2 separate regions of the Homo sapiens genome follow, and region 2 is linked to region 1. Evidence: fine-mapped expression QTL. Tissue or cell type: whole blood. Region 1 holds a variant in brackets; the other region holds the start of a gene. All regions are shown on one strand. Distances are from middle to middle.

Region 1 (5,386 bases):
ACATTAGAGAATTGGTCCTGGAAGGGAAAGAAACCACAGATTTTATTTCAGTACACAAATCCATCAGATTTTCTTCTTTTCATGAATTCCTACAGAAGTAATTGGCCTGAGAGCATTCTTGACCAAGTCTTAAATGCTAGAATCTGAGAAGGAATTATTAAATAGGTGAGTTGTTGAGCGAGAACCCCTTCATTTGAAAAGAAATGAGTATGCTACTATAGGGAGAGTTGTTGCTGAGAATTAAGAAATGATACAGTTAATGCAACAAAAGATGGAAAATAATATTTCAGTCAATATGTCATTGTTTTCTTGACTATGTCTCTCTTCTGGGACATTTAGTAGTGTTTGGTATGTTTTATGTGTCTGGTAGAAACCATATTTTGGTTAACAGCAAGAAAAATGCTTATAATGTAGTACAATTAAAAACAACACATCTCCACTACCAGTGCTAACCCATTTTTAAGTACATTTGCATGTGGGCAAGAATTGAAAGTATACAGATAATTGAACAGAATTGATTTGTTAGATAAGGAGATTTTGACTGAGTTTTATAGTCTGTTTAATGTTGCTGTAATAATTATTTTAAGAAACTTTTAAATATTGTAAGAGGATATCTAGTTTCTCTATTCTACCATCAAAGAAGCTTTTGAGTACCACCTGTTAATGAGCTTTCCTATTCTAAATTGTTTTGGGTCACAGAGTTCCACTTTTTCCACTCTTATTAGCACTGCAAAAGCTCCTGAGAATTTAAAAACACAGTAATTCTCTGGATGTTAGGACCTAGGGGAACATTGGGCATTTGAACATATCAGGGAGGGTCCCCATTTTAGTGGGAACAAGTATTTAAACAATATTTAGAGCAAGTGTCCTCATGTGATAAACAGAGCACAGTCCAAAGATACCCTCTTTCTCAAGGTAGTCTTTTATCTTTATAAAGAAAGATTAGTGTTTAAGAGCGTAGACTTGAGCTAGACTACCCAGGTTGAAACCCCACTAGCTGGGTGATCTTGAACATGCTGCTTAGCTTCTCTGTGCCAAACTTACTGATATCCTCATCTGTAAATTAGCGATAATAATAGTACTTACCTGGTAGGATTATGGTGAGTATTAAATGAGTAAATGGAAACAGCTTAGAATAGTGCCTGACATATATTATGTTCTCTGTAGTTACTGGCTGTGATTATTAATAATATTGCCGCACCCTAATATCTGTTATTTAATTGAAATCTGCTTGTGTGCTTATAAGAATTTACTGAGTTCTCACTTCCCTTACAGTCATACATGGTTTTTCCCTTTTGCCTAAATCAGAACTCAACAGCCTGGGAAAATCACTGACAAATAGTGGATATAGGTTTCATTTCTGAGGATCAATAAACAGCTTGTAATGTTGTATACACATTTATTCTGTTTGTACAAAGGTTTTCCATTCTATGGAGAGGATCCCAGTCTTCAGATTCTCTGGTAAGTTAATAACCCACAAAAGATTCAGGAAGAGGATCTATTTTAATTTTCTCTTTCATTCTATAAATCAGTCTGTTGTATATAGGGACTGACCATGATTCTCCATTTTCTGGCATAAATATTAGCTGCTCAATGATTGATTGTTGAATGATAGATGAAGTATTGCTGAAGCCAACCAGAGATCTTGATCTCTCTCTGAGGAAAAAACCTAGAAATGATGGTTAGAATCAGGAGACTTGAGAACTACGAGGAACATGGCAGCCTCTAGCTCATACTTGTCGTTGTACAATTGAGATCAAGTGAATTGGCCCCGGTCTCACATTTTCAGTGAAGTCAGACTCAGAACTAGGTCCTGGGTTTCATGTTTCCTGCTGCTCTTCTCACTGTGTACACACCATGCCCACATACAACATACCTATCAGAAATGGTTTTCATTAAGGGAGTAGAATAGTCACTTAACTGGGGCTCTTAACATTGCTAATAACCTGTGGCTCAATTTCCTCAACTGTATAATGAGGTTACTACTAGTATCTACCTCAAAGCGTTGTCATGTGGATTGAGATGATATGTATGAATCACATAAAAGAGTGCCTGGCACATAGTAGGTGCCATTAATAATATTACTATTGTTAACACCTTAAGGGTCTAACTTGTAATGAAGACAGAAATATGTATGAGGATGATCACTGAAATATTTATGACAGTGCATAATTTGCAAAATAAAAAATGTACACTAGCATAATATTTGTGGCATATCCGTGTAATGGAAGATTATGCAGGCATTAAAATATGTACACAAAAAGTTTGGTAAAGGAAAAATGCTGTCATGTGTTACAAAAGCATGATAAATAATTGTTAATATGGAATAAGCTCAAATATGTCAAAATAAATGTAAAAAATGAGTGTTGCCCAAAACTAAGGAGATTTGTCAAAATATTAACAGTAGTTAGCCTATATATTGGGAAAATTGGTGTTTCCTTTTCTATTTTTACACTTTTCAGTTCTTTCCAAAGCCTCCTGAAATAATATATCTTACTTGTAGAATTAGGAAAACAATCTCCTCAGTGATGGAATTTTTTTTTTCTTCAGAAGCTCATACCAAGGCCCAGTGTGTTAGCTCATGCTTATAATCCCAACAACTTGGGAGGCTGAGGGAGGAGGATTGACTGAGTTCAAGACCAGCCTGGGCAACATTGCGAGACCCTGTCTCTACAGAAAGTTTAAAAATTAGGTGTGGTGGTGCATACCTATAGTCCTAGCTACTTAAAAGGCCCTGAGGCAGGAGGACCACTTGAGACCAGAGTTTGAGGTTGCAGTGAATTATCACAGCACTGCACTCCAGCCTGGGCAACAGGGTGAGACCCTGTCTCCAAAAAAGGGGTGTGAGGGCTCATACATATTAATAAGCTACTAGAGGCCCAGCACGGTGGCTTACGCCTGTAATCCCAGCACTTTGGGAGGCTGAGGCGGGTGGATCACCTGAGGTTGGGAGTTCAAGACCAGCCTGGCCAACATGGTGAAACCCTGTCTCTACTAAAAATACAAAAATTAGCTGGGTGTGGTGACGCACATCTGTAATCCCAGCTACTCGGGAGGCTGAGGCAGGAGAATCTCTTGAACCCGGGAGGCGGAGATTGCAGTGAGCCAGGATCGCACCACTGCACTCTAGCCTGGGTGACAGAGTGAGACTCTTC[G/C]TTTTCCGTTAAAAAGAAAAGCTACTAGAACCTTAATAAAGGAATTTAGCACGGTCATAGGATATGAGGTTACAAAAATCAATTTTATTTCTATATGCTAGCAGTGACCAATTAGGAAATGAAATTGGAAATACAGTTCCATTTATAATGATACAAAAAAAGTTAGGTTTTGAAGGAAAGGTGAGGGTTAAAGAGAGAGTGGCTCAACAGAAACACAGGTTTATTGCCAGCAAAAACCTGCAGAGAGGGGACCAGCTTAGTGCCGGAGCCCACTGCTGCTTTCAGGCTGGGGTAATTATAGGTCTGGGTGGAAGGGGTCTGGGTGGTATGGCTTGCTGCCTGGCAGCATTTGATAAAGATGTTCCTGTTGTCAGGTGGTTAGGTAGGATGTTTCTCATGGCCCAAGCCCCTGAAGAATCGCCTTGACCAGGGTCTGTGAAATGGTTGGGGGTTTATAAAATGTTGCAGCTTGGACTAACAGTGACCAATTAGGAAATGAAATTAGAAATATAATCCCATTTACAATGATAGAAAAAATGTGAAATACTTAGATAAATTTAATGAAACATGAAAGACCTGCACAGTGAAAACTATAAAACATTGCTGGAAGAAGTTAAGGAACATATAATAAGAATAAATAACACAAAAGAAACGGAGAAATATACCTTGGTCAAGGATGGGAAAACTCAGTATTGTTAAGATGGCAGTCCTCCCGAAATTAATCTTTATTTTATTTATTTATTTATTTTTTGAGACGGAGTCTCGCTCTGTAACTCAGGCTGGAGTGCAGTGGTGCGATCTGGCTCACTGCAAGCTCTGCCTTCCGGGTTCATGCCATTCTCCTGCCTCAGCCTCCCGAGTAGCTGGGACCACAGGCGCCCACCACCACGCCTGGCTAATTTTTTTGTATTTTTAGTAGAGACGGGGTTTCACCCTGTTAGCCAAGGATGGTCTTGATCTCCTGACCTCATGATCTGCCCACCTCGGCCTCCCAAAGTGCTGGGATTACAGGCGTGAGCCACTGCACCCGGCCAATTTTTTAAAATTCTAATGAATTTTGTCATATACTGATCTGAAGGGTTTTTCAGTTAAAAAGTGCTGGAGAATGCTGTGATAATATGTTTGGGAAATAGAAGCTTTTCACATGAGTGTTCCTGAATCAGTCCTCACTGCCTAGACATTGAACTTATTAGACAAAATGGTGATATCGATAAACAGATAGAAATTATTAAAAAGAACTGAAGAGAAATTCTGGAGATGAAAAGTATAACTGAAATGAAAAATTCAGTATAGAGGTTTAACAGCATATTTGAGCAGACAGAAGGTAAATCAGCAAACTTGGAGATAAAACAATTGGAATTATATGTGTGAGGAACAGAAAGTAAATTTTAAAAAGTGAACAGATTACAGGCATTCCTTGGAGATACTGCAGGCTTCATTCTACACCACCACAACAAAGCAATCAATCATCATAAGGAAGTCACACAATATTTTTGGTTTCCTAGTGAATATAAAACCTATGTTTAGAGGGCGGGCTTCAAGATGACTGACTAAAGGCATTTGGTACTCACCTCATTCACAAAGAGGAACCAAAAATGGCAAGTATATAATCACACTTTGAGTAGATCATCTAAGAGAGGACATATAATTCAACAGAGAAGTGATAGAAAACACCTAAGGCAAGGAAGCAGAGGGAGGTGAGGTAGCCTGCTCAGCCACTGGAGATTGACTGAGAACCCAGAGAAACACCCCAATGTGAGGAAAGGGTATGTGAGAGATTCCCTAGCAGTCCACATTTCCACCATGGTTTCTTGCAATCCTAGCATGGGAAATTTCCTCAACCCTCACAGGCCCTAAGACCAACATAGTAGCTGCCTGGAGACCACATGATGGCATTGCTACAGAGATGGGGCATACACTGGGTCTTACACACACCCTGAGTCCTAAGTAGCTGCAGCACAGTGCCATTTTGAGAGCCCAGACCCTACCACACTTCACCCTGCATTGGTGCTCAATAGCTCCTGCATATCTGCATCCCAGGAGCCCCGTTGACAAGCATGCTTGGCCCACCACTCCCACTCCCTTGGGCCCTGGGGCACAAGGGCTGGCCCACCTGGAATCCCTATCTCCAGCAAAACTACTACAGTCTACACCAACGATGGTGCTCTAAGCCACTGAGGAAATCACAGGTACCACTGAAACTGCTTACAGCTGAAGAAATTATATGGAGA
Region 2 (5,386 bases), 21 kb after region 1:
AAAAAAAAAAAAAAAAGAGAAAAGAAAAAGAAAAAGAAAAAAAATCCTAAAATTCATATGCAACCGAGAAAGAGCTCAAACAGCCAAAGCAATCCTGAACAAAAAGAACAAAGCTGGAGGCATAACTTCACCTGACTTCAAATTATACTATAAGGCTATAATAACCAAAACAGCATAGTACTGGTATAAAAACAGACACATAGGTCAATGGAACAGATAGAGATCCCAGAAATAAAGCCACATATCTACAGCCAACTGATCTTTGACAAAGTCAACAAGAACAAGCATGGGGAAAATACAACCTCTTCAATAAATGGTGCTGGGAAAATTGGATTGCCATATGCAGAAGAATGAAACTTGACCCTTATCTCTCGCCATATACAAAAATCAACTCAAGCTGTATTAAAGACTTAAATGGAATACCTGAAACTATAAACATACTAGAAGAAAACCTACGGAAAACCCCTCTGGACATTGGTCTGGGTAAATAATTCATGACTAAGACCTCAAAAGCACATGCAACAAACAGAAAAAGAGAGAAATGGGACTTAAACTAAAAATCTTCTTCATAGTGAAATAAACAGTAAGCAGAGTGAAGAGACACTTGCAGAATGGGAGAAAATTTTTGCAAGCTTTGCATACAAGAGGGGACTAATATCTAGAGTTTACAGGGAACTCAAACAGATCAACAACAACAACGAAACCCAAATAATCCCATTAAGAAGCAGGCAAAGAACACAAATAACACTTTACAAAAGAAGACATACAAATGGCCAACAGGCATATGAAAATATGCTCAACATCATCACTAAACATCAGAGAAATGCAAATTTAAACCACAATGAGGCCGGGCGCTGTGGCTCACGCCTGTAATCCCAGCAGTTTGGGAGGCCGAGGTGAGCAGATCACCTGAGATCAGGAGTTCAAGACCAGTCTGGCTAACATGGCGAAACCACGTCTCTCATAAAAAATACAAAAATTAGCCGGGCATGGTGGTGGGCACCTGTAATCCCAGCTACTTGGGAGGCTGAGGCGGGGAGAATTGCTTGAACCCAGGAGGCGGAGGTTGCAGTGAGCCGAGATCAAGCCACTGCACTCCAGCCTGGGCGACAGAGCGAGGTTGTGGGGGAAAAAAAAGAGATATTATCTTACATCAGTCACAGTAGCTGTTATTAAAAAGACAGGCCGGGCCGGGTGCGGTGGCTCACGCCTGTAATCCCAGCACTTTGGGAGGCCGAGGCGGGCAGATCACGAGATCAGGAGATTAAGACCATCCTGGCTAACACGGCGAAACCCCGTCTCTACTAAAAAATACAAAAAAGTAGCCAGGCGTGGTGGCGGGCCCCTGTAGTCCCAGCTACTTGGGAGGCTGAGGCAGGAGAATGGCGTGAACCCGGGAGGCGGAGCTTGCAGTGAGCCCAGATCGCGCCACTGCACTCCAGCCTGGGCGACAGAGCGAGACTCCGTCTCAAAAGGAAAAAAAAATCAAAACAAACAAAAACAGGCCGAGCTCGGTGGCTCATGCCTGTAATCCCAGCACTTTGGTAAACTGAGGTGACCGGATCACCTAAGGTCGGGAGTTTGCGACCAGCCTGACCAACATGGAGAAACCTGTCTCCACTAAAAATACAAAATTAGCCGGGTGTGGTGGTGCATGCCTGTAATCCCAGCTACTCAGGAGGCTGAGGCAGGAGAATTGCTTGAACCTGGGCGGAGGTTGCGGTGAGCCGAGATCGGGCCACTGCACTCTAGCCTGGGTAACAAGAGCAAAACTCCGTCTCAAAAAATAAAATAAAATAATAAAAATAAAAAGACAAAGAAGATGTTGGTGAGGATGTGGAGAAAAGGAAACTCCTATACACTGTTGGTGAGAAAGTGAAATTAGTATAACCTATGGAAAACAGTGTGGAGAATTCTCAAAGAACTAAAAATAGAATTACCATTTGATAAAGCAATCCTGTTACTGAGTATCTACCCAAAGGAAATCATTATATATATAAAAAAAATACCTGCACTCATATGTTTATCACAGCACTATTCACAATATCACAGGTATGGAATTAACCTAAATGTCCATGAATGGATGAATAAAGAAAATGTGTTATATATACACAATGGAATACTATTCAGCCATAAGAAAGAATGAAATTGTCTTTTGCAGCATCATGGATGGAACTAGTGGCCACTATCTTCAGTGAAACAACTCAGGCACAGAAAGAAAAACACATGTTTTCACTTTAAGTATGAGCTAAAGGATATGTACACATGGATGTAGAGTGTGGGATGATAGACAATGAAGACTCAAAAGGTGTGGGGGGGTTTCAGGGATAATCATAAATTACCTGACTGGTACAATGCATATAACGTACTATAGGGCGTGGATACCTTAAAAGCCTTGACATCACCACTACACAACTGATGCATGTAACAAAATTACACTTGTACCTCATAAATTTATAAAAGTTTTTAAAAGCCAAAAACAAAAGAATTCTAGAAAACTTGTATCTGCCTCTGTGAATGTCACCTCTTCCCAATACTTAAGATCAATAATGATTAGTGGATATTTTCCGTTGGTGCAAAAGTAAGTAATTGCGGCTTTTGCCATTAAAGTAAACCAATATTTTCCAACTGGCCAATACATGATGTTACGAAATCATGCGTGATAAAAGAATCCATTCAAAGTGCAGTGTAGACCAACGGATTTTATGTAATAGAGTAGAAAAAGTTCATCTACGTGGTTTCAGATTGTACACTAACAAAACTATCCCTTGTTCGACTTGTATCTTTATATACTTTAACAAAAACAACATACGCAACAGATTAAACATAGAAGCAGATATGAGAATCCAGCTTTCTAGTAAGTCAGAAAAGACTTAAAAAGCGAAGCCACTCCTTACTAAATTTTTTCTTTTGTAAAATATATGTAATTTTCATTAAAATATTATTTATGTTAACATGTAATGGGAATTTTACGAATCTGTTATTAAAGTGTAAAGCAAAATAAGACTTTTACCATTTCAGTAAAGCAGGGACTAGAACACTTGTAACCTAATTTACATCCCTCCAACCGTTGAGCCATTGGTGTCAAGTATTTTAATTCTCTTTAAAATTTAAAACCTGCAAGCGCGGGAGCTCAGGGACCTGGCCAGGAAGGCCTGAGCTTCCGGGTCATCTTAGCACGCCCCCTCCCGGTGGCCCTTGGCCGGAGCCCTCCGGCGCGGGAGTAACTCCTCGCAGAGGCCTCTGGGAGTTGTAGTTTTTTTGCCTTTGCCTCTCCATGACGCAATTCCTGTGCGACATACGTAGCGGCCGCCATTGTTCCGCGCCGATGGCGAGATCCTTGTTCCTCAGATAGCGTTCATCGCCCGTCGTGGTCAACGGGCCAGCCGAGTCTGGAGTGGTTGCGAACCCTTCTGGCTGCAGATCTGGAGGTGGAGGCAGTACCCTGGACTCTATTCTGCTGCCCCTTCAGGGTTTGGAGGAGCCGGAGGTGCGGAATTCCTCCGGTTTCAAGGCGGCGGGACGGGACAGAACTAATCTGCCTTAGCTCTCTCCTGCTGCTGACCCGGGGCGGTTGCCTGACCCTAACCTGTGTGTTGGTGAGGGTGTGGAGATGGTGAATCCCGTGCTGTGGGAGGGAAGGAGCCTCAGCTCCGAGAATGGCAGGCAGCCCTGGTGCCTCGGACCCTCCCCCTCTGGGTTTGGGGACTGCTGGGTGACCTCTTTCTTCACTGTGCTCTCTCTTCTAGCATCCCTCGCGTCCTGTCACTTCCAGCGAGGCACACAAAACTGACCGTAGGGATGGCCACCAGGGTCCGGACAGCTTCTATTTGGGTGAGTAGGGGTTTTCTTTCATTCTTGAAAAGCTCTCCCTGAATGCCAACGTGTGCGCACTCCATCTACTCCAGTCTGAATTTGCCAGGAGCTTTCTCACCCCACCGCTCTTTTAGGCAACTGGATCGTCATTTATAGCATGTTAGACTTTCCAGAAATGCTTCTTGTCATCCGACTTCCTTTTTTCCTCCTTTCATCAATCTCTTTTCTAACAACTTTGTACGCTGAACTTTGGAGTTAAACAAGGGATACTCACACATCTTTCAGTTTTTTCAGCCTTTATTTACTGAGGGCCTTCTGTATCTGGGATCTTTAAACCTTATTTTGGAAATTACAAACTTTTTTATTCACTTGTTCAACATTTTTTTTTATTGTATTTTGTTTGCTGGACCCTGGGGCAGGTGCTAAAAATGCAAAGATGGGTTGCTTATCATCCCTGTCTTGAAGAACAGTGGTCTAGGAATGGTGGATAAGAAAGACAATGACAAGTTAATGAGTGCTCTGGGAGCAGGCTGTGGAAATACACGGAGACATGCAGGAATGGGTCAGTTTTGGAAGTAAGGACACCCCCTAACCCCTTACTCCCAAATGCTTCAATGATTAAGAGATTCTTAACCTTAGGTTTGAAAGATGACAAACCTAAAGTAGACAAAGGATTAAAACCAGCCTAGGAAAAAGAAGTAACGTGCAAATTTGAGAGGCTTGAAATGACCTCATGTGGTGAACTTTGGGCACTTTAGGGTTGCTAAAATGTTGAGTTTAATGGTGATAGTAGAGTTATATTAAAAAATGAGGCTAGAGCCGTAGGCCTAAGATCATAGAGGGCTTTGAGGACCCCATTAAAAACTTGGATTGTATCACATAGGGCAGGTGGTCCCCAACCCCCACGCTTCAGACTGGTACCAGTCTGTGGTCTGTTAGGAACTGGGGTGCATGGCAGGAGGCGAGTGGCGGTTTAGTGAGCATGACTGCCGGAGCCCCGCCTCCTATCAGAGGCTGCATTAGCTTTTCATAGCACAAACCCTATTGTGAACTGCGCATGCGAAAGATCTAGGTTGCGCACTTCTTATGGGACTCTAATGCCTGATGATCTGAAGTGGAACAGTTTCATCCAGAAGCCATCGCCGCACCCGACTGCCCGTCCATGGAAAAATTGTCCTCCACAAAACGAGTCCCTGGTTGGGGACTGTTGGTATAGGGGAAGGAGTTTACTTATTGAAGTGTTTTCACAACGGATTTGAGGGTAGAACAGTCTAGTCTGCAGCAGGTAAGAGAATATAAGGGTTTAAGTAAATTAGTGGTTTTGAGAAAGGAGAGGAGGTGGCTGGGTGCAGTGGCTCCCACCTGTAATCCCTGTTACTCGGGAGGCTGAGACAGGAGAATCGCTTGAACCCAGGAGGCAGAGGTTGCAGTCAGCCGAGATCGCGCCACTGCACTCCAGCCTGGGTGACAGAGCAAGACTCTGTCTCAAAAAAAAAAAAAGGAGAGGAGGTAAAGAGGCAGAAGAAATTAGATTTCATAACTAGTTGGGTGCAGTGCTAAGAGAGGCAGA

The links. PIP is the estimated chance that this variant, and not a neighbour inherited with it, causes the effect.
Region 2: it holds the start of ZNF268, and the variant in region 1 is fine-mapped to the expression of ZNF268 in whole blood (INTERVAL, PIP above 0.99).

Annotation. Positions count from the first base shown.
Region 1 is chr12:133,157,090-133,162,475 of GRCh38, forward strand. ZNF10 (zinc finger protein 10) reads left to right here. Exons shown (of 5, transcript NM_015394.5): 5 at 1-2,376. Among named protein-coding and RNA genes, the nearest start is that of ZNF268, 22 kb to the right of the region's middle. RefSeq lists an enhancer at 2,786-2,955. The variant G/C (reference allele first, on the strand shown) is at 3,156.
Region 2 is chr12:133,178,197-133,183,582 of GRCh38, forward strand. It overlaps ZNF268 (zinc finger protein 268), which reads left to right and starts at 3,299. Exons shown (of 6, transcript NM_003415.3): 1 at 3,299-3,490; 2 at 3,750-3,834. The coding sequence starts at 3,802. RefSeq lists enhancers at 3,017-3,541, 3,137-3,446, 3,487-3,686.